Regions from separate parts of the Homo sapiens genome. Here region 1 is linked to region 2. Evidence: fine-mapped expression QTL. Tissue or cell type: whole blood. Region 2 holds a variant in brackets; the other region holds the start of a gene. All regions are shown on one strand. Distances are between the middles of the regions. Region 1 holds the start of NCF2 (neutrophil cytosolic factor 2). Region 2 overlaps NCF2 (neutrophil cytosolic factor 2).

Region 1 (11,230 bases), 27 kb after region 2:
GGCTGGGCTCAGTGACTCATGCCTGTAATCCCAGTACTTTGGGAGGCCGAGGCGGGTGGATCACAAGGTCAGGAGTTCGAGACCAGCGTGGCCAACATGGTGAAACCCTGTCTCTACTGAAAAATACACAAATTAGCTGGACGTAGTGGCGGGCACCTGTAATCCCAGCTACTTGGGAGGCTGAGGCAAGAGAATTGTTTGAACGTGGAAGGCAGAGGTTGCAGTGAGCCGAGATCGCGCCACTGCACTCCAGCCTGGGTGACAGGGCGAAACTCCGTCTCAAAAAAAAAAAAAATTCTTCATTAGCCTGAGCCAAATTCCTCTTCCCTAGAACTGATGCACACTGGTGGAACAGTTTCTACAAAGGGTCAGTTTCCCATGCCCCAAAACATTTGAAATTATCACTTAGAATTTTTTTCCTTTGTTATTTGTTATGAGGTATTTGTGCAGGATGAGAGGGAGGAGGAATTGAGATTAACTTTCATTTTGAATTTATTAATCTTTGTACTAATTATTCCATGTTGACTATAAACAAACCTAAAAATGCAGACAGGGTGATAGAAGAAAATGGATTTTCCTATAATCCCACCATCCAGAGAGAATTATTGATAACATTTTGATCTATGGCCTTCCAGACTTTATTCTGTGATACAGAAATGGGACTATGCTATATGAACTGTTTTGAAATCTGTTTTTAAATTTAACATCTGGCTGGGCGTGGTGGCACATGCCTGTAATCCCAGCACTTTGGGGGGCTGAGGTGGGCAGATCACCTGAGGTCGGGAGTTCAAGACCAGCCTGACCAACATGGAGAAACCCCATCTCTACTAAAAATACAAAATTAGCTGGGTGTGGTGGCGCATGCCTGTAGTCCCAGCTACTCGGGAGGGTAAGCCAGGAGAATCGCTTGAGCCTGGGAGGCGGAGGCTGCGGTGAGCTGAGATCGAGCCCTTGCACTCCAGCCTGGGCAACAAGAGTGAAACTCTGTCTCGGAAAAAGAAAAAAAATTAACATCTACTGCAAACTTTTTCTGTATAAGTGCATACGCTACTTACTTATCTGTAGTAATTTATTCTTATACATATAATGTTAATTTGTATTATCATTTTTGCAGCTGAAGTATATTTCCTCAAATGGATTAAACCAGGTTTTGGAAATGCATTTTGCTGGGATGAAGCCAGGTTTTGATGCAGTTTCATGATCATCCCCATTCTGTGACAGCTCAGTACCTCATAGGAGACCTACATGGGTGACCCCATCAGGGACACTGGTGGGGTGTCACACCAGCTGAGTATCAGGCCCATGGTGGTTACCTAGGCTCATTGTGCCTATGACACAGCTGATTTATAATCTGGTGGCAGACCTGCCTTGCCTCCCCAGTGAGAGCTTCTGCCTCACCTGCTGATTTATTGCATAACTGTCCCCAGAAGGGCCAGTCACATTTCCCAACAGAGGTTGGGAAGGTACTGCTCAAACACCAAGCCCGCAACACTGAGACCCCTTGGGTTTCTCTCTGAAATCCTCCAGTTGGTGCAACATTGAACCACTTACTTCTCTGTCTGGTAGTAGAGCATCCCTCGTTGGAAGTAAGCCACTGCCAAGTGCTTGTCTCGGTTAATGCTTCTGGTAAAGGCCTGAGGAGAGAAGGGTCCAGACATGGCCATGATGCAAGGCAGTGAGGAGGTGTGAGATGAGCCACGGCTCACAGAGCCCTAGCTCCCTGTGGTGCCCAGCTCTGCTGTCTGCCCTCGTCGGCACCTCGAGGCCCACCCTGTGCTCTCACGGTGCACCCCACTTCGCTCTCACATTTAGAAGCTGAAGTCTGGGACAATGGTGTGCATTCCTTGTATTGTCATTCCAGTTCTGCTGTGGATCTACAAAACATTCCTGGAGCCATACATATACCATCTGATTTCTGCTTTTGTTAGTCATATATGGCCTAGAAAAGCTACACAAGAATCCAATAATTCCCAGGTGCGGTTGCTCACACCTGTAATCCCAGCACTTTGGGAGGCCAAGGCAGGTGGATCACTTGAGCCCAGGAGTTCAAGACCAACCTGGGCAAAATAGTGAGACTCCATCTCTACGAAAAATTTAAAAATTAGTCAGATGTGGTGGCACATGCCTGTGGTCCCAGCTACTTGGGGGACTGAGGTAGGTCAATCGCTCAAGCCCAGGAGGTGGAGACTGCCGTGAGCTGTGACGGCACCACTGCACTCCAGCCTGGGCAACAAAGTAAGGCACCCTGTCTCAAAAAAAAAAAAAAAAAAAAAAAAAAAAAATCCAATGATACAAATAAAGACAAAGTGGACTATAAGGGTGCAGACACTAATGGATTATCACCAACAGAAATCTTAGAAGAAAAGAAACACTAAAGCATTTTCCCAAAGGAGCTCATCATTTTAAAAATGGACTTGACAATATGAAGCGCCTTCTTTGTAACTGTCTCTGACCTTCTCTGAGACTAGAATTCAGAATAGATAATTTAGACATTTACCTGATACTAATAAAAAATACATATCTATATTTAAAATATAGTTAGTTATATTTAATGACCTCATTCCCAAGTTCCTTTTTCATTAGTGTAGCTTTCATTTCTATTATCGCTGTTTTAATAATATGATTTAATATGATTAGATAGAAGCTTTGAGCCAGTAGACACTATGTTACTAAATCAGTACTTTAAAATCTTTGGTCTTCTGTCTTTCATTCATATGAATTTAACTGCTGTTTGCTCTAATTTCTTTGAGTTCTCCTAGTTTGAGTAGAGTACAATTTTACTGTGAAACAATGCAGCGAGACTGTGCTATGAAGTGAAGGTAGAGTTTTTGGAGGTGATAATGATGTCAAACTTAAAGATACAATTCCTATCCAACACAACAGAGCACCTTGTCCAGGAGAGTAGTAATTACTATTTATTGCTCTGTGGAAGATAAAAAAGATAGGGAAATAGGAGAAGCTTCTTTGAAAAATGAAACATCATTAGACGGGCTTGGTGGTGCATGCCTGTAATCCCAGCTACTTGGGAGGCTGAGGCAGGAGAATCACTTGAACCCAGGAGGCAGAGGTTGCAGTGAGCCGAGATTGCACCACTGCACTCCAGCCTGGGTGACAGAGTGAGACTCCATCTCAAAAAAAAAAAAAAAGAAAGAAAAAATGATATCTAATGTAATAATGAAATTTTAACCCTTGTTGCATTTCTTGTATTCCTATGAATGTATTGAACATTCAGTTTAAATAAATAATAAAATTTATTGCAAATGAAAATAATTAAAATATTATATAAATTGTTATATTTGTTTACTATACAAACTTATACATGAATAGTATACAATTAAAATGATAATGAATAAGAATGCATATAAATGCTAGTAGGAAGGGCTCAAGCAGGAAAACAAAGAAAGGCAGAAGGAATGAGAAGGCTAGAAGCAGAGGAATGCCAGGAGAAACAGAGACATGTGGGCCTGAAGGCCTGGGAGCTGAGAAGTGAGTGGTGGCCCACACAACCTTGCCAAGGATCCCATATCCAGGCCAAGGCAGGAGGCTACAGTCCCTGCTGGCATAGCTGTGCCCAGACTAGCTGCCAATCTCTTCTCCTGGACAATGTGCACTTTGTGTCCATCAGCCCTCAGAATGTGTGGTGCTGTTCACTCAGCCCCTCAGCAGGCCCCTGAGAGGAGGTGGGGCCATGTCCTTCCTCCAGCCAGAGGTGGGGGGTCCTGCCATGCTCTGCCTTAGAGCCTGAGATTGACTTGTCAAGCTATGTGAGAACATTTCAGTCACTTCTCTGTCTTCCTGTCAGGAGGGTGTGGCTGAGGCTTGTTTACCTACTGTTGGAGTGTGGAAGGGACTGATTCTTTAAGGGACCTGGGGAGTCAACCACTGCCACACCTTGCAAAGACTGGCAGTAATCGGTAAAAATAATAACTAACTCTTATACAGTGGTGTGAAGTTCCACGAGACATTAATAGTTTGGCATCTCACTTAATTTTCATGATATTTAGAAACTCAGGAAGCTGAAAGCCAGATGTCTACATAGGCTACATAGCTTGCTTAAGACTAAAAGTCCAGAGAGAGACAGAGGCTAGGATTCGATCCTAGATCTTCTCCTTCCAAACTCCATACCCTTTCCACCTTACCACAACCAATCAAAAAAATAATTATCGAGAATGCTTAACTCCATACTATGGTATTTGAGTGAGAAAACATAACGAAAAAGATGCGAGACATCCCACACCATGCCCCCAGCAGACATCACTAGTCAATCACAGTACAATTTCCTCTTGCCAGCCTCAGCATCTTTAAAAGAGTCTCCTTTATAATTGATCAGAATTGTCACTTGGGATAAAAGCTATTTTTTGTAAGTGCCTCCCTTAAATCTCTTGAGCAGGCAAAGTCGACACACATGAAAGTCTTGGAAAGCCAAAAGAGGTGCCTTAGAATCAATAATCAGGTGTAAAGCGCTGGGATAGATAGAGATTCTGTGCCCAGAAGGAGTTCTGTGTAGAAGAAAGTACGACTAGGACAGCCTTCACAAAGGTGTTAAAGACACTTGTAGAATGATTTTAATTTAGAAGATGGAGAAAGAGGCAACCCTGGCTGCCCCTCACCTGCTCTCCACCTGGAGAGCTTTTAAAACTGGCTGCCTGGGGCCCCTCCCAGACCAGTTAAATCAGGCTGTCTAGGGGTGGAGCTTGGGCAACTTTTGTTCTTTTCAATCTCCCCAGAGGTTAGGTTTCCGAAATGCAATGGGGTTGAGAATCATAATAACAAATGCACAGAGGAGGCCCGGAAAGAGGCACCTCCACTCACCTTCTCTGCTTCAGTCATGTTCTTCAGGATAGTGTACATGCAGCCAATGTTGAAGCAAATCCGGGAGTGGGGGTCCTGGACGGCACTGAAGGCATCCAGGGCTCCCTTCCAGTCCTTCTTGTCCGCTGCCAGCACCCCTTCATTCCAGAGGCTGATGGCCTCCACCAGGGACATGATTAGGTAGAAACTAGGAGGCCAAGAGAGCTGCCAGGAGACAGAGAGAAGACAGGTTGGAGCGTCTCCCCTAGCAGGGCTGCCTTAGTGGCCCCCAAGGTGTTCACTTTCTGGGCCAGATGAGTAGAATGGGGCCCAGCCTCCCTTAAGATAACTTCTCAGTGTTGCAAATGCATCAGGAAATGTCCCCACCTTTTGGCAACTGACTCATAACCCTACCATGAGAGAGAAAAGGAAAGAAGCAGAGAGAGAGAGGGCGAGTAGGGGTGGAGTGTGGAGGAGAGAGGAAGTACATCAGCTGCTGCCTGAAGGATCAGTTCCCCAAAATGCTTCTGCTCTGTCACCCAGCTCCTCTTCTCTCTCCCACCCCTGTTCTGTGGCAGCTTCTGGCCAAAGTTCTGCTTCTAGAGCCAGGGTAACCTTGGCAGGTAGAGGCACCTCCCTGGTGATAATGACAGGAGGCAGCCAAATGCCTAGGCAGATAGGGGCAGGTCCCTGGTGAAACCCCACCTTCAAGCCAAAAACAGCCTGAAGGCTGAAAGACTAGGCTACTGGTCCCAAATGAAACCCGTGACCTAGAGTGAGAACTTCTGTTCCTGTTTGTCTGCTCTTTCCCAATTAATTATTTCTGACTAATGCCTTTTAACCAATTGAATGTTGCCTTTTCCAGTACTACCTATGTCCTGCCCCTCCCCTATTCTGAGCCCATAAAAGCCCCAGACTCACCCGCACTGGGGGGACTTTCCTGCCTTTGGGTAGGGGAACCACCCCTGCATCCCCTCTCCACTGAAAGCTGTTTTCATCACTCAATAAAACTCCCCACCCAGGCCGAGTGGGCAGGCCATCTCCTGCAGCAGGTAGTGTGGCCCACTGAGGCCTGGGCAGGGTGTCACCAGCCAGAGGTTCCTGGCTTACAAAGTGATGGAGAAAAAATCCTGTGTCACTGGGCCTTGATTTCCACACCCTTGTTAAATGGGAGTGTCAGATGAGAGGATAATTCTTTCCAGTCTTGAATGAATTCCTTGCTCACTTTTTTGTAATCCCATAGGCTGTATTAATATGTTAGTGTTTATCTTGAGCTGAAATTATCATTAACAAATTTTTGAGACAGGATAATCTTTGGAGATCCATCTGATCTGGGCCTGAAATAACTTTTTTTTTTTTTTTTTTGAGACGGAGTTTCACTCTTGTTGCCCAGGCTGGAATGCAGTGACACGATCTCAGCTCATTGCAACCTCTGCCTCCTGGGTTCAAGCAATTCTCCTGCCTCAGCCTCCTGAGTAGCTGGGATTACAGAAGCCTGCCACCACGCCCTGCTAATTTTTGTATTTTTAGTAGAGATGGGGTTTCACCATGTTGGCCAGGCTGATGGTCTCGAACTCCTGACCTCAGGTGATTCGGCCTCCTCGGCCTCCCCTCAAAGTGCTGGGATTACAGGAGTGAGCCACCGTGCCCAGCCGAAATAACTTTTATGAACATTCATGAAGTTCAGAGGGGACCAATTTCCTGCAAATGTCAAAATTGGGAGCCACATGACAGTGAATTATGACTTCTCCCATCTTCCAGTGAAAAATTGAAGAGATGAAAGTCCTGCACTGATGACTAATGGATTTACTAGTCTCTGAAAAAACAGATTTAAGAGTTCTTTCCTTGCTTTTCCAGAAAAGTAAAAATCAGTAAAACCTCCCAGAGGAATAACTGGGGGTAAAGGGTATAGCCAATTTGGCTTGCTAAAATCCAGGCTTCTTTTTAGGTAAAATGCATGTTTATGGGGGTCAAATACTTAGATGCAAACTCTTGTTTTGTAGCAACTGAAAGAATTCACTCATTATCACCAAGCTTCCCCTAAAAGCCTGAAAATAAAACTTAAAAATGTATACTCCACAGTGCTTGTAGGATTGAAGGTGTGAGAATTAAGAAGACATGTGTGTCTTTGTCCAGATTGTTTTCCTGTGTTTACAAGGCCTTCCCAGCTCTCTTCTTTGCCTGGCAAACTCCTACTCATCTTTCAAAGCCCAGTTTAAATGTCACCAACTGTGCTAAATCTAGCCCTGAACTCTGGGTAGTAGGAGAATTTTCCTCTCCTTTGTACCACCTTTACCCAAAAACTTGCATCATACTTACTGCAATTTATCTCTTTATCTGCTCAATTCATGGGCTCCTTGGAAGTTGGGACCATGCCTTTTCATTCTAGGATCTCTAGCACAGATACTCAATACATGATGAAGGGATACATTCTAAAAGAAATTAGAAATCATTGGTAAATGACCTGCAGGTAGCAGTGATGGCAGAAAGAGGTATTGCTATTCCATCTAGTGAATAAATAATCAGGACTTGAATAGCACATTAATTATTCCTGAGAAAACCAAATGGATTTGTAGCTAAATTAGACTTCATTTTTAAAAAATGTTTTTGCCCTCCTATTATCCCACCCTGACACTCAGAACTCTCCTTAATCTGACTGCCAAGACTTTTCTAGCCTTATCCCCAGAACTTTCCTTCACAATCCCATACAAACTCTGCTGCTTACTCTTCTCCCGCTATGCCTTCATTCCTGCATCTGTGCGACTCGTGCTAGTTCCTCTTTCTAGGCTGCCCTCTCCCATGTCTGCACCTTCAAACCCACCTTGCATAGCCTTCGAAGGCCTGCTAAAATAGCACTCTCCTTAACACACTGCCCTGAAATCAGTCCTGCCTGAAAGCGCTCAAACCCATGATCTCGCCTTCTGAACTCCTGCATCTCCTTCTCCGCACCTCCCATGTGGCCCTTAATCACTCTTCACCAATGTATGTGCATGCAAGTCTTAGCACCTCAAATAGTGTGCCTCAGGAGGAAGTCCTGGGCTAACCCATGTTTGTATCCCCCAGGGCACTAGCAAAGCCATTCATGCTCCATTTCATCCACTTTCCCTCCCCTTCTCCTGTCACCACTCAGGCCAAGCCACTATCAACTCCCAGGTGAACATGATAGTCTTTTAACATTTCTTTGCCTCTCCATCCAGATTGAGCTTTTAAAAACACAAGTCAGATCACTTCATGGCCCCTGTTTTTAAACCTTCCATGGCTTTGCACTGCTCTCAGGATATAACCCGAACTCCTTCCCATGCTGCAGGAAGCCCCCTGCCTGCTGCCCTGTGCTCATTCCAGGTCATTTCCCCTCCTCCTCTCCCAAGAACTCCAGCTACACAGGCCTCCTTTCATGGTTTCATATGAGCCAGCCTCTTCCTCCGCCCATGTAACACTCTTCCCCCAAGCCTGCCTGGCTAGTTCCTACTCATCTTTCACTTCCTCAATGAGTGGCCTTTCTAGATCCATGACCTTGCTATGTGCACGGTTCTCTCTGATCATGTATTTGTTACAGTTTGTAACTGTATGTCATCTGTGACATTGTTTCTGTCCCTCAATGCAGGGGCAGTCTATTTAATCATTACTTGGTGCTGTTAGTAGACGGTCTGTTCAGCCACTGTCCATTCGCCTTCCTCCTTTTGGTAGAACCCCAGTTCTGTTCAAGCCTCCAGTTTCCTGAAGCCATGCGCTTCAGGAGGGAAAGTCTGCTAAGAATTTCTGGGAAAGATTTCTTCCCCAGTGATAAAAAATAAAACACATGAGAAGAAACAGCACTTGTTTCTCTACTAGACAGCATTGTGAGATGTGTCTGGAATATGGCAGCTGTCTTATAATCATGAGGGGAGACAACTAAGAACAAGCCATTGTCTGAAAGAAAAGAGAATGGAAAATTACAAAGAGCTCAGATGCTTAGTTATGCTGATGAGATGTGTTGCATTATCTGTTTTCTGCAAATCTGGCTGGGCACAATGGCTCACATCTGTAATCCCAACACTTAGGTGGGAAGATCCCTTGAGGTCAGGAGTTAGAGACCAGCCTGGGCAATGAAGCCAGACCCCATCTCTACAGAAAAACACTAAAAATTAGCCAGGCATGGTGGCACATGCCTGTAGCCCCAGCTTCTCAGGAGGCTAAGGTGGGAGGATCATTTGAGCTCAGGACTTCAAAGGCTGCAGTGAGTGATGATCACGCCACTGCATTCCAGCCTAGGTGACTGAGCAAGACTCCATCTCTTAAAAGATAAAAATAACGTTTTCTACAAGTCTGAAACTGATCTACCTTGGAATTTCTTGTTTGGTTAGATAATAAGTTTGTTTATTGTTTAAGTCATTCATATCAAGTTTTCTATTAGTTATGGTTTAAAATGTTCTGACACACACACCACTGGATTCTCGGTACCTAGTACAGGGCTTGGCATATAGCAGGTGTTCAATAAACATTACTTGTTAAATAAAATTTGTTGAGGCATTGGTTGGGTAACTCAGTTTCATCTCGATATTTTCAAAATTATTCCAAAATTCCAAATAAGCAAGATTTGCATATGATTGGTTAACACTACAAACTACTGTTGCATGTATTTATTCAGCTGGAAGCCAAGAACACTCCCAAGACCCTCCTTTTTTTTTCTGAGGAAGAAGCCTGTAAAATCAAAATAAAACTCATTATTCCTGGGCACTCAGGAAATACTTTTTCATTCCTACATTTAGATTTTAGTGTTCTATCGCTCTTTAACTTTTTCTGGTACATGAGACTTCTTTCTTAAGCTCCTCAAAGGATAGAGCCAACTCTCCACTGTCCTTCAGTCTTTCGCCATGTTTAGCACGTAGTAGCTGCTCCGTGATCATTGGCTAATTAATTAAATGAACTGAAAAATGAGAAAACTGAATCCTACTTGGAAAAATATAATTTTGTAAAGTTTGTCAGTATCATGTTAGTTGCATAAAGTGAGGTACATTTAGACTAGTAGGGAAAAGAACGCACTTTTTTGCCGTCAACTCTAACATTGAGTAGATAGTTTCATTGAGTACAAGACAGGAAACCCTGAAGGAGGCAGGGAGGAGACCTCATTTATTAGATATAAACTTGGCCTGGATCTCACATGAAGGATACAGAAAAGTCAACAGGGGTCCTGTTGTTCAGCAATGCTATTGAAAGCCTCAGGGCTTGAAATCGTCTTTCTCCAGGAAGGCAAGTTAGTCCTGTCTAATCTGTCGTTGGGTTGGTTTTCCGTTGCTGCATGACAAATTACCACAAACTTAATGGCTTAAAATAACACACATGTACTATGTCACAGTTTTCATGGGTCAGGAGTCTGGGCACGGCTTAGTTGGGCCCTGTGCTCAGGGTCTCACAAGGCTGAGATCGAGGTGTTATCTAGGCTGCTTTCTCATCTGGAGACTTGACGGCATCTGCTGCCAAGCTCCCTTGGTTTGTTGGTGGAATTCATCTGTAGCTATAGAATTCATGAAAGCTTCCTTCTTCAAGGCCAGCAATGGAGGCAGAGAGAATCTCTGCTTCATTAAGTCTCTTACCTCTAGACCTTCTCTTAAAGGAGTCACCTGATTAGGCCAGGCCCACCCAGAATATTCTCCCTTTTGATTAATTTAAAGCCAACTGCTTAGGGATGTTAATCATCTCTGCAAAAATCCCTTCACCTTTGCCATGTTCTATTGATTAAAAGCAAGTTACAGGTCTCTCCCACTCAAGGGGAGGGGATTACACAAAGGCAAGGATCATCAGGGATCATCTTAGAATTCCACCTGCCACACCTCAGCAGCTCCAGTCTTCTTCCCTGACTTACCAGTGAGATTAATTATTCCTGCCATGTGCACTCAAGGAGGTTTCTCTCTACCTCTCCTAATGTGTGTTCAAGCACATGTGATTGTAATTACTTGTTTAAACGACTGTCTCTCAACTAGACTGTAAGCCCCGAAAATACAAGATCTGTGTCTGATTTTTCCACTGTATCTTTTGTGCCCATGATATGGTGGATTTTTAACATATCTGTTAAATAGCGATGCCATGGAAGGTGCTTTTAAAGTCAGTGTGATTACTTAATTTGCTTGGCTAAATATATGTGTCCTAGCATCCTAGATGAAAATGAGGGAATGTATAATGCCTATTCATTTAAAGACACCTCATATTAAGCACTCTTTTTCATATTTGTACCCTTTACACACACAATGTCTAGTACCTGCATAGGTGGTCACTCAGTAAAAGTTTGATGAATAAATGAATGAATGCATAGAGATTAAAGATCTGAATCCTGAATGAAGCAAGTAAATACACTGGATCCTCACTATAAATTGTCCTTTGGGCCAGGCACAGTGGCTCACACCTATAATCCCAGCACTTTGAGAGGCCAAGGTGGGCGGATCACGAGGTGAGGAGTTGGAGA
Region 2 (11,230 bases):
CACTCCCGGGTTCAAGCGATTCTCTTGCCTCAGCCTCCCTAGCAGCTGGGACTACAGATGTGCATCACCACGCCCAGCTAATTTTTACATTTTTAGTAGAGATGGGGTTTCACCATGTTGGCCAGGTTGGTCTTCAACTCCTGGCCTCAAGTGATCCACCACCTCAGCCTCCCAAAGTGCTGGGATTACAGGTGTGAGCCACCAGGCCCAGCCTACCCTCATTAACTTTAAAATTTCCCCCTCTCTTTGTCTGTTGGATTTTCTGTTATAATTGATGGTAGTTTTTCACTGCTTTGCATTGGTAGTGCACAGACTCAGCGTATGAGCAGGGCTTTTATGATGGGACTTTTTTGTGTCGAGGTAGAGAATTAGGCTGGCAAACCACGAGTTGGAATGGTGCTTCTTAAGAGTGTAGGCAGTAGACCAGCATCACCTGGAAACTTGGTAGAAATGCAAGTTGGTGGGCCCCACCCCAGACCTGAATCAGAATCTCTGGAGGGTGGGCCCAGGAATTGATTTAACAAACTCTTCCAGGGATTCTTAGAACTCTCCACTTTTAAGAGGTGGGTCTTGCTGTGTTGCCCAGGCAACAGCCTTGAACTCCTGGCCTCAAGTGATCCTCCTACCTCAGCCTCCCTAGTGGCTAGGATTACAGGCATGCTGTTTCAATTTTTAGTCTGTTCATTACAAACAGAATCAAGAAAGTCACCAGAGACACAGGATAGTTCTGAATAGCTGGTTTTTAAGGCAAAATTTACCTACTTTTCTCTTTGAAAAGTACATTAATTCAAAGAACTATGGTTTGCAGAAGGTCATACAGCTTGATGCAAAGGCAAAGTGATTCCAGCCCAATTTGTTACCTCTGGGAATGAGAATCCATGGTTTCCAAAGCATACTCCTCTTTAATAATCAAGATGTTTATCGCCGGCCAGGTGCGGTGGCTCATGCCTGTAATCTCAGTACTTTAGGAGGCCGAGGCAGTTGGATCACTTGAGGCCAGGAGTTTGAGACCAGCCTGGTCAACATGGCAAAACCCCATCTCTACTAAATACACAAAAATTAGCTAGGCATGGTGGTGGGCGCCTGTAATCCTAGCTACTCAGGAGGCTGAGGCAGGAGAATTGCTTGAACCCAGGAGGGGGAGGTTGCAGTGAGCCGAGATTGTGCCACTGCACTCCAGCCTGGGCAACAGAGGGGGACTCTGTCTCAAAAACAAAAACAAAAACAAAACAACTCAGCTTCTTGTTGCTTTCCTGGCTACTAGAGCAATAGACAGGGAAAGTCTGAGTGCTCAACTTTGCTCCCTCCAGCTAGATGCTAGGAAGGGGGTTGAAAACACTGGCTAAAGTTTTGTTTGTAGATTATTGATATTTTCTTCTCTCTGCCCTTGACCTTGTTTCTGCTAACATGTAAATTTGTTTCTATAGTCTTGGAGTAGCACTTACCCTTTGATAACACCAGGATTATATCCCCTTCCTGAAACTCCAGGTCCTCTGGTTGGGTAGCCTCATAACTGAAGAGTGCCTCCACTTGGCTGCCTTTCTTAAGCTGAGGTTCTGTTGTCTGGTTATTAGCATCAGCTTTTTCACTTTCCTTGGGTTCATCTGGAAAGCCTTGGTCACCCTGAAATAATAAAGGGCCTGTTAATTTTCCCAATTTCCTGCCAAGTGAACACTGAACATCACTAAAGGAAACAGCGAAATGTCAAAGTAGAACCTGGGATATAAACTCATAAAGTTTGTGATCAGTGCCTTGTGTAGAGCTTATATGCTCTTTATGAATACTGGATGGTTGGGTAAATCAGTCCCCAACCTTTTTGGCACGAGGGACCAGTTTCATGGAAGACAGTTTTTAGATGAATGGTGGTGGGTGGTGGGTTGGGGGGTGGTTTCAGGATAAAATTGTTCCACCTCAGATCGTCAGGCATTAGATTCTCATAAAGAGCATGCGACCTAGATCCCTTGCATGCACAGTTCACAATAGGGTTCACACTCCTATGAGAATCTAATGCTGCTGCTGATCTGACAGGAGGCAGAGCTCAGGCCAGTATACCTGCAGCTCACCTGCTGTGCAGCCCTGTGCTGGCCCGTGGCCTGGAGGTTGGGGACCCCTGGGATAAATGAAACCAAAAGGTCTGCAAAATCATATACAGTCTTAAAATATCTTACTGAAACCTTACAATAATCTTGAGACAGGTAGAATGGGCATTATTATTTCTTTACAGATGGGGACAGAGCCCTAAGTCAAAACTGGCTTTCTTAGCATCAACTCTAACAGCAACACTAGGGACCTTGTTAGAAATGCAGACTTTCAACTCCATCCCAAAACTACTAAATCAGAAACTCCCTGAAGGTGAATCCTGCAATCTGTATTTTAAGTCCTCTAGGGAATTCTGATACTTGCTAAAGTTCAAAAACCACTGCACAATGCCATACTTGTTTTATCTGTAACAACATTTCTTATACATCTTAGACTTATGATCTTAGACTTCTTCCACATTATTGTCACTTTTGCTTCACAAATGAAGGAGAAGGATGCGGTTTCTACAGATGTGAATCATAGAATTTAACAAATCAACATTAGAAATGCTGCTAGGCTTGTATGTACCGAGCATTATAAGTTCTAGCTTCTTAATGTTGTTTGTTGAACGTTGGTATATTTTTATTGAGAGGCAATACAATGAGGTGGAAATGGCCCTAGAGAGTCCACAGAGAAAGGTTTGTATCCCACCTCCACTGCTTACCAGCTCTGTGTCCCTAAGCAAGCAGTGTAACTTCTCAGAACCTCAGTTACCTCACCTGAAATTGAGGCTAGAAGAATTCAATGAGATGACATACAATAATAGTAGTTGACATTTATTGAACACTTACTCTGTGGCAGTACTCTTCTAAATATGTATAAATATTTAGACTTGGTTAATGGTAAGTGTTCCTGCATAGAGTAGATGCTTAATAAATGTTAGTTCATTTTATTTTTCTTTCTTTTCTTTTCTTTTTTTTTTGTATTTTTAGTACAGATGGGGTTTCACCATGTTGGCCAGGCTGGTCTTAAACTCCTGACCTCAGGTGATCTGGCCCATCTCGGCCTCCCAAAGTGCTAGGATTTCAGGCATAAACCATACCAGGCCTCTTTTTTTTTTTTTTTTTTTTTTTTTTTTTTTTTTTTTTGAGGCAGAATCTCTCTGTCACCCAGACTGGAGTGCAGTGGTATGATATCAGCTCACTGTAACCTCCGCCTCCTGGGTTCAAGCAATTCTGCCTCAGCCTCCCAAGTAGCTGGGACTACAGGTGCACACCACCACACCCAGCTAATTTTTGTATTTTCAGTAGAGATGGGGTTTCACCATGTTGCCTCAGCCTCCCAAAGTGTTGGAATTACAGGCATGAGCCACTGCGCCTGGTTTTCTTTCTCCTAGTAAGTGAAAGCCTGCTTTGTTGCCTCCAAAAGTAATGGATAGTGATAAAGAACATTCAACAGTGACTCCTGAGCCTGGATTAAATTGCAAAAGATTGTGGGGAGTTGTAAGAGGGTTGGCTATGTGCAGCCACCAAATAGATTGAAGCTGCTGTCAAAGGAAAAAATTTTAATTAAAAAAAAGTTTAAGTGAAGTAGTTCACATTTAGAGCAGAACTCCTTCTAGGAAGAATCTTTTAAAAAAGATGCTGAAGGGGTTAGTCCAAAGACAGACAGCTGGAAAACCTAGAGTGACTTTTCAGACTTCCAAGAGACCCCTTACACTCACACTCACTCTTACCCCCAGGATCCTGGGGCCTTTTGTCTCAGCCAGAGACACCAGGGAGTCTCATCCCCAGTGGCTGTATTTCCTGAAGGCAATTTTCTGAACGGGGAAGATACCTTAAACAGCTTTATACACTGCCCTTTTCTAGGCTCATTCTCTTTCACTCTTCTTCTCCCAGCTCATGTCTGTAATCCCAGCACTTTGGGAGGCCGAGGCAGGTGGATCACAAGGTCAGGAGTTCAAAACCAGCCTGGCCAAGATGGTGAAACCCCGTCTCTACTAAAAATACAAAAATTAGCTGGGTGCAGTGGCAGGTGCCTGTAATCCCAGCTACTCAGGAGGCTGAGGCAGGAGAATTTCTTGAACCTGGGCGGCAGAGGTTTCAGTGAGCCAAGATCACACCCAGCTTGGGCGACAGAGTGAGACTCCATCTCAAAAAAAAAAAAAAAAGGTGAAGAATGGCTATGAGCTGAGCCTTAAGCTATGATATGACTTCATTCCAACCTTGCTTGACAGTAATGGATGGGATGTTTGACACAGTCAGGCAGGGAGCTGATGGAGGGGCAGGAGGCTTTCTGTGAGCTCCTGCCCTGCTGGGCCTGCTGTTCTCTTGTGGGAAACTCTCTCCCTGCTGCAAATGGGGTGAGGATGCAGGTAAAAGGGAGGCAGAGCTGTGACTTATTACACACCATATCCCCAACACCACATATAGTGCCTAGTACACAGAAGGTGCTTGATAAATTTCAAATTGTTGAGGAAGTGGCTCAGTGGAAATGTAACTTTAGATGCCCCTCATTGCACTCACCACTGTGTTCTCACACCACAGAGTCAGGCAGTAGTTTTTCACCTGGCCCCAGGCATCCTTCATGCTGTCTTCTGAAAGGGGCACCAGCTCATTGCTGTCCCGAGGCCGATAGCTGGGTGGGGATAATGAGTAAGAATCCAGTCAAAGAACATCATCACAAAAACCATCCTCCTCTTCCCTCCTCCAGGCCAGCACAAGGTTCCCACTGTACCCCTCACAGCTGCCTGCATGGAGCTCACCTCAGCTTAGT[G/T]TGTTCCAGCCGGAGCTCCAGTTTCTTAGACACCATGTCCCGGACCTGGCTGTAGGGGAGCCCGGGCTGAGTCTTCATGACTACCGTGTACTTGTAGTGCACCTTGAGTGTGTAGGGCATGGGAACACTGAGCTTCACTTCCTGAGTGGGGAGGAAACAAAGGGAACTCCTGAGTGTCTGAGGCTTTCTCTCAACATCCTGGATCACCGCAGTTTCGTGATTTGGCACAGGGGGTACCCAATACAGCAGGGGAGAGGCCAGTAAGTAACTGGTTTCACAGTAGCCTAAAAGGCCTTCAGAGGTCCTTTAGCCCAACCCTTGCTTGGACAGGAATTCCTACTGAGTAAGATCTGGCCCACTAGCTTGGGTAGTAGGAAGTGTGTGCATGATAGTGGAGGAGGCTATTAAGAAGGTCCCTAGCTCATGGACTCTGTAAGGTAGCAACTGGTTCGACCCTCCCTTTGGGGCTCTTCCTATAATCCAGACAGACATGTCTGTGGTTGATAGCCCAAGCTATCCCATCTTCTACCACTTGAAACAGTATGAGGGAAAAATGTTACCTTAGGCTCTTCTTTTTGTTTCTGGCCTGAATGGAAAAAGTAGGGAGTAAAACAAAAGAAGATGGTGAATGAACATCCTTGGCCAGCCCCTGCCACACACAGATGAAACCTCTTCAAATAGGGCCCCCAACCTCTTACCCTTTAATTTGTGGGGCAATTATTAACCTTAGTAAACTGTGGGGAAAATCTCGCCCTGGGGAAGCATGAAGGTCATGAACACATGAACAAACTCAGTCTCTGCTTCTAGGGAGCCTATAGGTAATTACCAAAGGACCAGCATATCCTCACCAACCCACAAGGTTAGCAGGGATCCCAAAGGTCAATTAAGCCCACGGGATCCAAAGCAATGAAAATCGGAGTGCAAGGTGAGCCAGAGGCCACAGGAAGAAGTATTAGAACCACTGATCCTCACCTTATTCTTTATTTTTGTGTATGTTTCCTAAAGTTTATTAATTTAATCTAATCTATTAATCAAGCAATCTAATATTAATCTAATTTATGTAAGAGTAGCATGCATAAAGATATTTACTATAGGGGGTACATGATCAGAGAAGGCCACTGATCTCAAACCTAGCTGATCATTAGAATCACATGGGAAGTTTTTTTCTAAAATACAAATTCCCGAGCCCCATTCCAGTCCTAAAATATCAGAGCCAGTAGCCTAGGACTCTGTATTCACAAAATCATCCTAGGTTTATATGTGATCCTTGATGAGCCTCTAGACAAAAGATAACAACAAAAAACCTGTCAAGGACATTGAGCAGGAGCAACGGGAGAAATTTGAATATGGAATATACATTATATAATACTATCATATGAATGTTTAGTGTCCTAGATACCATGATTCTATTGTGATTATGCAGGAGACTGCGTTTTTGCAGCTGTGTAGGGTGAAGTGTCACGAGTCTGTAACTTTTCAACTGGCTCGGGGGAGAAAAATAGAATGGAGCAGGGCGAGTTCATGGTGCAAAATGTTAACAATTGGTGAGTTTAAGTGAAAGATATTCTGATGTTTATTGTATTCTACTGTCAGCTTTTCTGTAGGTTGGACATTTTTCAAAATAAAAATGGGGGAAGGGACATCCCGAGTGATTCTGATGATCAGGCGCGTGTGGCAATCATTGATCTAGAATCTGGCCAACCACTCACTCTGCGTCTCTACCAAGCGCTTATCCAGAATCTGCTTCAAGTGCACTTCCCAAGACAGCCCTCTCCACACTAGGAAACAGCCTTTCAGAGAGAACATTTCCATTTCACATCTGCCCATTGGTTCTTTGTTCATCCTCAGGGCTCCACAGAGCAATTTCTTTTCCAGATACAGTGCCTCAGACATTTGAAAACAGCCACTCCATGCCCCTCAGAGATAAGCAGGTATAGTTACTTCAACTTTTCTTCCTGAGACATCGTTTCCCTACCTAATGATCAAGGGGTTTGGTGACTACGTGAGTCACTCAGGAACCAGCTGCATTCACCCAAGCCCCGTGAGTGTTCTGCAGAAGGCAGGGAGAGAGGGCACTGATTTCATGTTTGGGGTGGGTGGTGCAGGAAAGGGGGATTCTGGGGCTGCGTGGTCATTAGCTGAGTGACATGTTGGGAGAAGAAGAAACCAGAATTTCCTGGAAGGCAGGGAGAGGAACTCAGGAAGCAGCCTGGCATGCTGCTGCACCCAGACCTAGGCTGTGGCTCCAGGACCACTCACCTGGTGACAGCTGGGGTCTTCCAGGGGCTTTGGAACTAGGAGGAGCTGGGATGTCGGACTGCGGAGAGCTTTCCTCCTGAAGGCAACAGGGAGCGACGGTCAGAACCTTCATTCAAAGTTCCCAGGCAGGGGTGGATGTGGGGAAACACCCCTACAGAGACCCCATGTAAAGGAGCCACATGCAGATAACGTCCTAAAAGTTGGAATGGTAGTGACATTTGGGGAAGACGAAGGAAATGTTGGCCAAAAGAGGAGGTGGAGTTGGCCTGATGAAAATGAAAATCACAGTAGAAAGAAGAATCCTAACCCGCTAAAACGCCCTTGCCGCTTTAGCAACTCTTTCAGCCATATTGGAAATCCACTGGCCGTGGGGCAGGACTGAGCTCTTGTCTCCACTGCAGAGGGCATTGAGAAAGGAAAAATTCCACTTCTCATTTGCAAGGCATTTGAAGCTTTTCAAAGCATTTGGATATGGTGACTGACCAGGGAGGGCTGAGCTCATATACAACTGGTTGCACAGTCTAGAGACAGACAGTCTCCACTGCCATTGAGTCACTTACAGGGATGCTCAGATCTGACAAAGACAGCTCTCTAGGCCTGGCAGAAGGACAGACTTTTGAAGTGTGAGGGAGGGAGTAGCAGCAGTTTAGAAGCAGTGGCTGGCAAGGCCCACTCTGATTCAAAGCTCTAAGGCAGATCTCATTTTATTATTTTTATTTGTATAGAGGTGGCATCTCTCTATTTTGCCCAGGCTGGTCTCGAACTCCTGAGTTCAAGTGATCCTCTCACCTCAGCCTTCCAAAGTGCTAGGATTACAGCCATGAGCAACTGCAGCTGGCCTCATTTTCTTTCTAATGGCATTGTACCAGCCAACACATTGACTACTCTTCCACGTGAAGCAGACACACTTGGGAAGACCTAACCCACTCATATACTGTAGGCTTTGCTTCCCAAGTGACTTCTGACCAGGAAGAGTCACAGAGGTGGGTGGGCCCAATGGGACCTACAGATGCCTCCAACTTAGCACATCTGGGCTTTTTTCCCCTCATTCCCAGGTTCAGCTCTGGGTAGCTGGTGCCATCTCAAGGCGGGCTCAAGACTAGTGAATCTTTCTCCAGGGGTCCTGACAACACCTCTTTTACACTGCTTTTCTCCCCTCCAGGGAGAGATCCCTAAAGGGTGAGAGGAAATGGGTCAGGCCTTGGCATCACATTACCTGGGGCTGCTGCTGAGGGTGGATCCGCAGCTCAACTGGTTCAAGGTAGTTGCAGGGAACAAGCCCCTTCTGCAGTGCAGCACCACAGAATCAGAAAGGAAAAAATAAAGATGTGCTCATCAGTACCCACACCACAGAACAGCCCAGAGTCCTGGGGAAGGGATGACGAACAGACAAAAGAACTTGGCTGGTCTGCAAAGAAGGCAGCAGATACTGCTCCACAGAGACTGCATTTGCTGCCAGGATCCCATGCCCATCGCACCAGCCCCTGATCCTCTGCATACCTGCCCGTTGAACATGACCGTGGCCCAGTTATCATTGCCCTTCTTCAAGACAAAGACAATGTTCCCTGGCATGACCTGGAGCTCTTCTTTTGTCTCAGGCACAAACCCAAATAGCACACGGTGAGCCTCCCCTTCCAGAGCCCTGCAGAGGATAGACACAAGATCCAGCCCCCATCCCCTCACATGATGCCATGGCGCAAATACACTGAACTTGGAGCCAGGGACTTGGCTCCAGCCTGGCTCTAACTCCACATCTAACTGCAACTGCCGAGATGACACTGAGCCTGCCTGGGCTCCCAAGAGGTCTCAGCAAGAAACTGGTGTACACCTGCTCATAACCATATATGCAGAGGGGCAAGAATAAAGCAAAAACCCCACAACACTAGATAGTGAGGACTTACAATCCTTGCCCTCCCTTCTGCTCTGAGGAGGAAGGTCCCTGGCTGTGTCATCTTGGCCAGCACCCAAGGCTGGGCTGGGGTGGGGTGGATCAGGTGACTGTGGTCAGGGGAACAGCACAAAGCAGAAGTCAGGTGAGAGCCAGCTGGGCCAGAAAGATTGGTGGGAGAGGAGGAAGGAGAAACCACCTAGAACCAGTGTTGGGCCAGGATAGAGAGACCGTGAGCAGGGTAGGTGACAGGGAGCGTGAGGGATGCACATAGAGGGCTCTGAGGCTGCCCAGCTGCCGTGGTGCAGTGTCGGTTCCCTTAAGTCTGACTTCATGCTTTTAGGCTTTGAGGCTCTGATTGGCATCACTTTGGAACGTGTGACTGAGAGGCTGGTGTTCAGGTTTCAGGCTTCCCTCCCTTTACTCCCCACTCTGTTACTTTCCCCTCGGCCCATCCTTGTTTCCAGACATCGTGCCTACTCCTGTAGGGAATACAGGCCCTTCCAGCTGACAGGGAGCTTAGGAATGAGCTCATCCAGCCCCCTCATTTTTGTAGTTGCTTTGGTACTTTTGTCACTTTTTTTTTTTTGAGACGGAATCTTGGTCTGTTGCCCAGGCTGGAGTGCAGTGACATGATCTTGGTTCACTGCAACCTCCACCTCCTGAGTGCAAGTGAGCCTCCTGCCTCAGCCTCCCAAGTAGCTGGTATTACAGGCACATGTCAGTCACCACACTCAGCTAATTTTTTCATGTTTAGTAGACATGGGGTTTTGCCACGTTGGCCCGGCTGGTCTCGAACTCCTGATCTCAAGTGATCCGCCCACCTCAGTCTCCCAAAGTGCTGTGATTTCAGGCATGAGCCACACACCTGGCCAATCACTTTTTAAAACCTCCTTTTTGGGTGGGAGGACCAGGCTTGCTTCATCACTTTGAGAGAATTCTTAAGAAAGCTGTAGGTTATGTCACCCTTTGTTTTTCATCTTACAGAAGAAGGACTTCCTTTTCTTCAGTCCTTCCTCTTTACTTCTTCAGAAAGCATGTGCCGATAGGGAGTGGAAAACATCCACACAGGAAAAAGGACGTCATTCTAGATTCCTGACTCCAGAGAGCTCTGGCCTGCCCCCGTCAGAGGGGACTGCAGCCAGTGCGAAACCGATCTCCAACCTGAGGTCAGCATCCTGGTCCCCAGGGTAGCTATGTTCCACAGAACACCACTGCCCCTCAGCAACAACCCCTTGCCATGTGGGTGGCTGTGCACGTGGACAGAGGGCCAATGGGACACCACGTAGCTGCAGCCAAGCCCTGATGGCCAGCCCCACCACAGTCAAGACTCCCATCCCCATCATATCATTCCTTTCTAGCCTGACATTCTAGAAGACATTCTTCTAGGCATTCCTTTCTAGCCTGACATTCTAGAAGAAGCCTGACATTCCAGAAAATTCAACAAGATTTAGACCCTGACCCCACCTTCATCTTCTTCCCTCCCTTTCTTGCCATCAGCTCAGGCTTGGCGCTTGGATATTCTATTTATGGATTTGAATCTAACTTACCTGAAGATCTCTGGGGTTTTCGGTCTGGGTGGAGGCTCAGCTGCCTATTGAACATTCAGGAGAAGTGAAAACGGAAAAGGCAATGAGGGAAAGCAGGGGAGAGACAACAAACGGCTAATGGTAATTTGAGCATTCTTCCAGACCAGAAAATCAAATAACGCATTTCTGACTGATGAGAACACTGTCTAGGAAGAGGGCACAGTCACCCTGACTAAACACTGGGAAATAACACCTCCCACCAGCTCCCCAGGTACAGGTTTCACTAGCACAGCAATTCATTTTGAGCCAGAGCTAGTTTCTGGAGGTTAGCAGTCACACAGCAACATGGTGTCACAAGAATGCTTTGACCTTGAGCTCTGTCCTTTTCCCAGGACAGTTTCCAAAAGCTCTGTTCTGTAATTAATGTCTACTATGTCACATGACACTTCTGAGTATTTTTAAATTAATTTAAAAAAAATTTTTTTTGAGATGGAGTTTCACTCTGTCGCCCAGGCTGGAGTGCAGTGGCGCGATCTTGGCTCACTGCAACCTCTGCCTCCCTCATTGAGGTGATTCTCCTGCCTCAGCCTCCCATGTTGCTAGAATTACAGGCATGTGCCACCACACCCTGCTAATTTTTGTATTTTTAGTAGGGACAGGGGTTTCACCATGTTGGCCAGGCTGGTCTGGAACTCCTGGCCTCAAGTGATCTGCTCACCTCAGCCTCCCAAAATGGTGGGATTATAGGCGTGAGCCACTG

What was found. PIP is the estimated chance that this variant, and not a neighbour inherited with it, causes the effect.
Region 1: NCF2 starts here. The variant in region 2 is the best candidate, but not a certain one, in a credible set for the expression of NCF2 in whole blood (INTERVAL, PIP 0.86).

Annotation. Positions count from the first base shown.
Region 1 is chr1:183,585,344-183,596,573 of GRCh38, forward strand. It overlaps NCF2 (neutrophil cytosolic factor 2), which reads right to left and starts at 5,116. Exons shown (of 15, transcript NM_000433.4): 1 at 4,813-5,116; 2 at 1,552-1,634. The coding sequence starts at 4,986. It also overlaps the pseudogene C18orf32P1. RefSeq lists enhancers at 5,136-5,395, 5,506-5,845, 8,466-8,525.
Region 2 is chr1:183,558,651-183,569,880 of GRCh38, forward strand. It overlaps NCF2 (neutrophil cytosolic factor 2), which reads right to left. Exons shown (of 15, transcript NM_000433.4): 7 at 10,492-10,535; 8 at 8,554-8,695; 9 at 8,270-8,338; 10 at 7,054-7,129; 11 at 5,355-5,380; 12 at 4,784-4,935; 13 at 4,545-4,656; 14 at 1,446-1,623. Among named protein-coding and RNA genes, the nearest start is that of NCF2, 26 kb to the right of the region's middle. RefSeq lists an enhancer at 9,093-9,152. The variant G/T (reference allele first, on the strand shown) is at 4,795.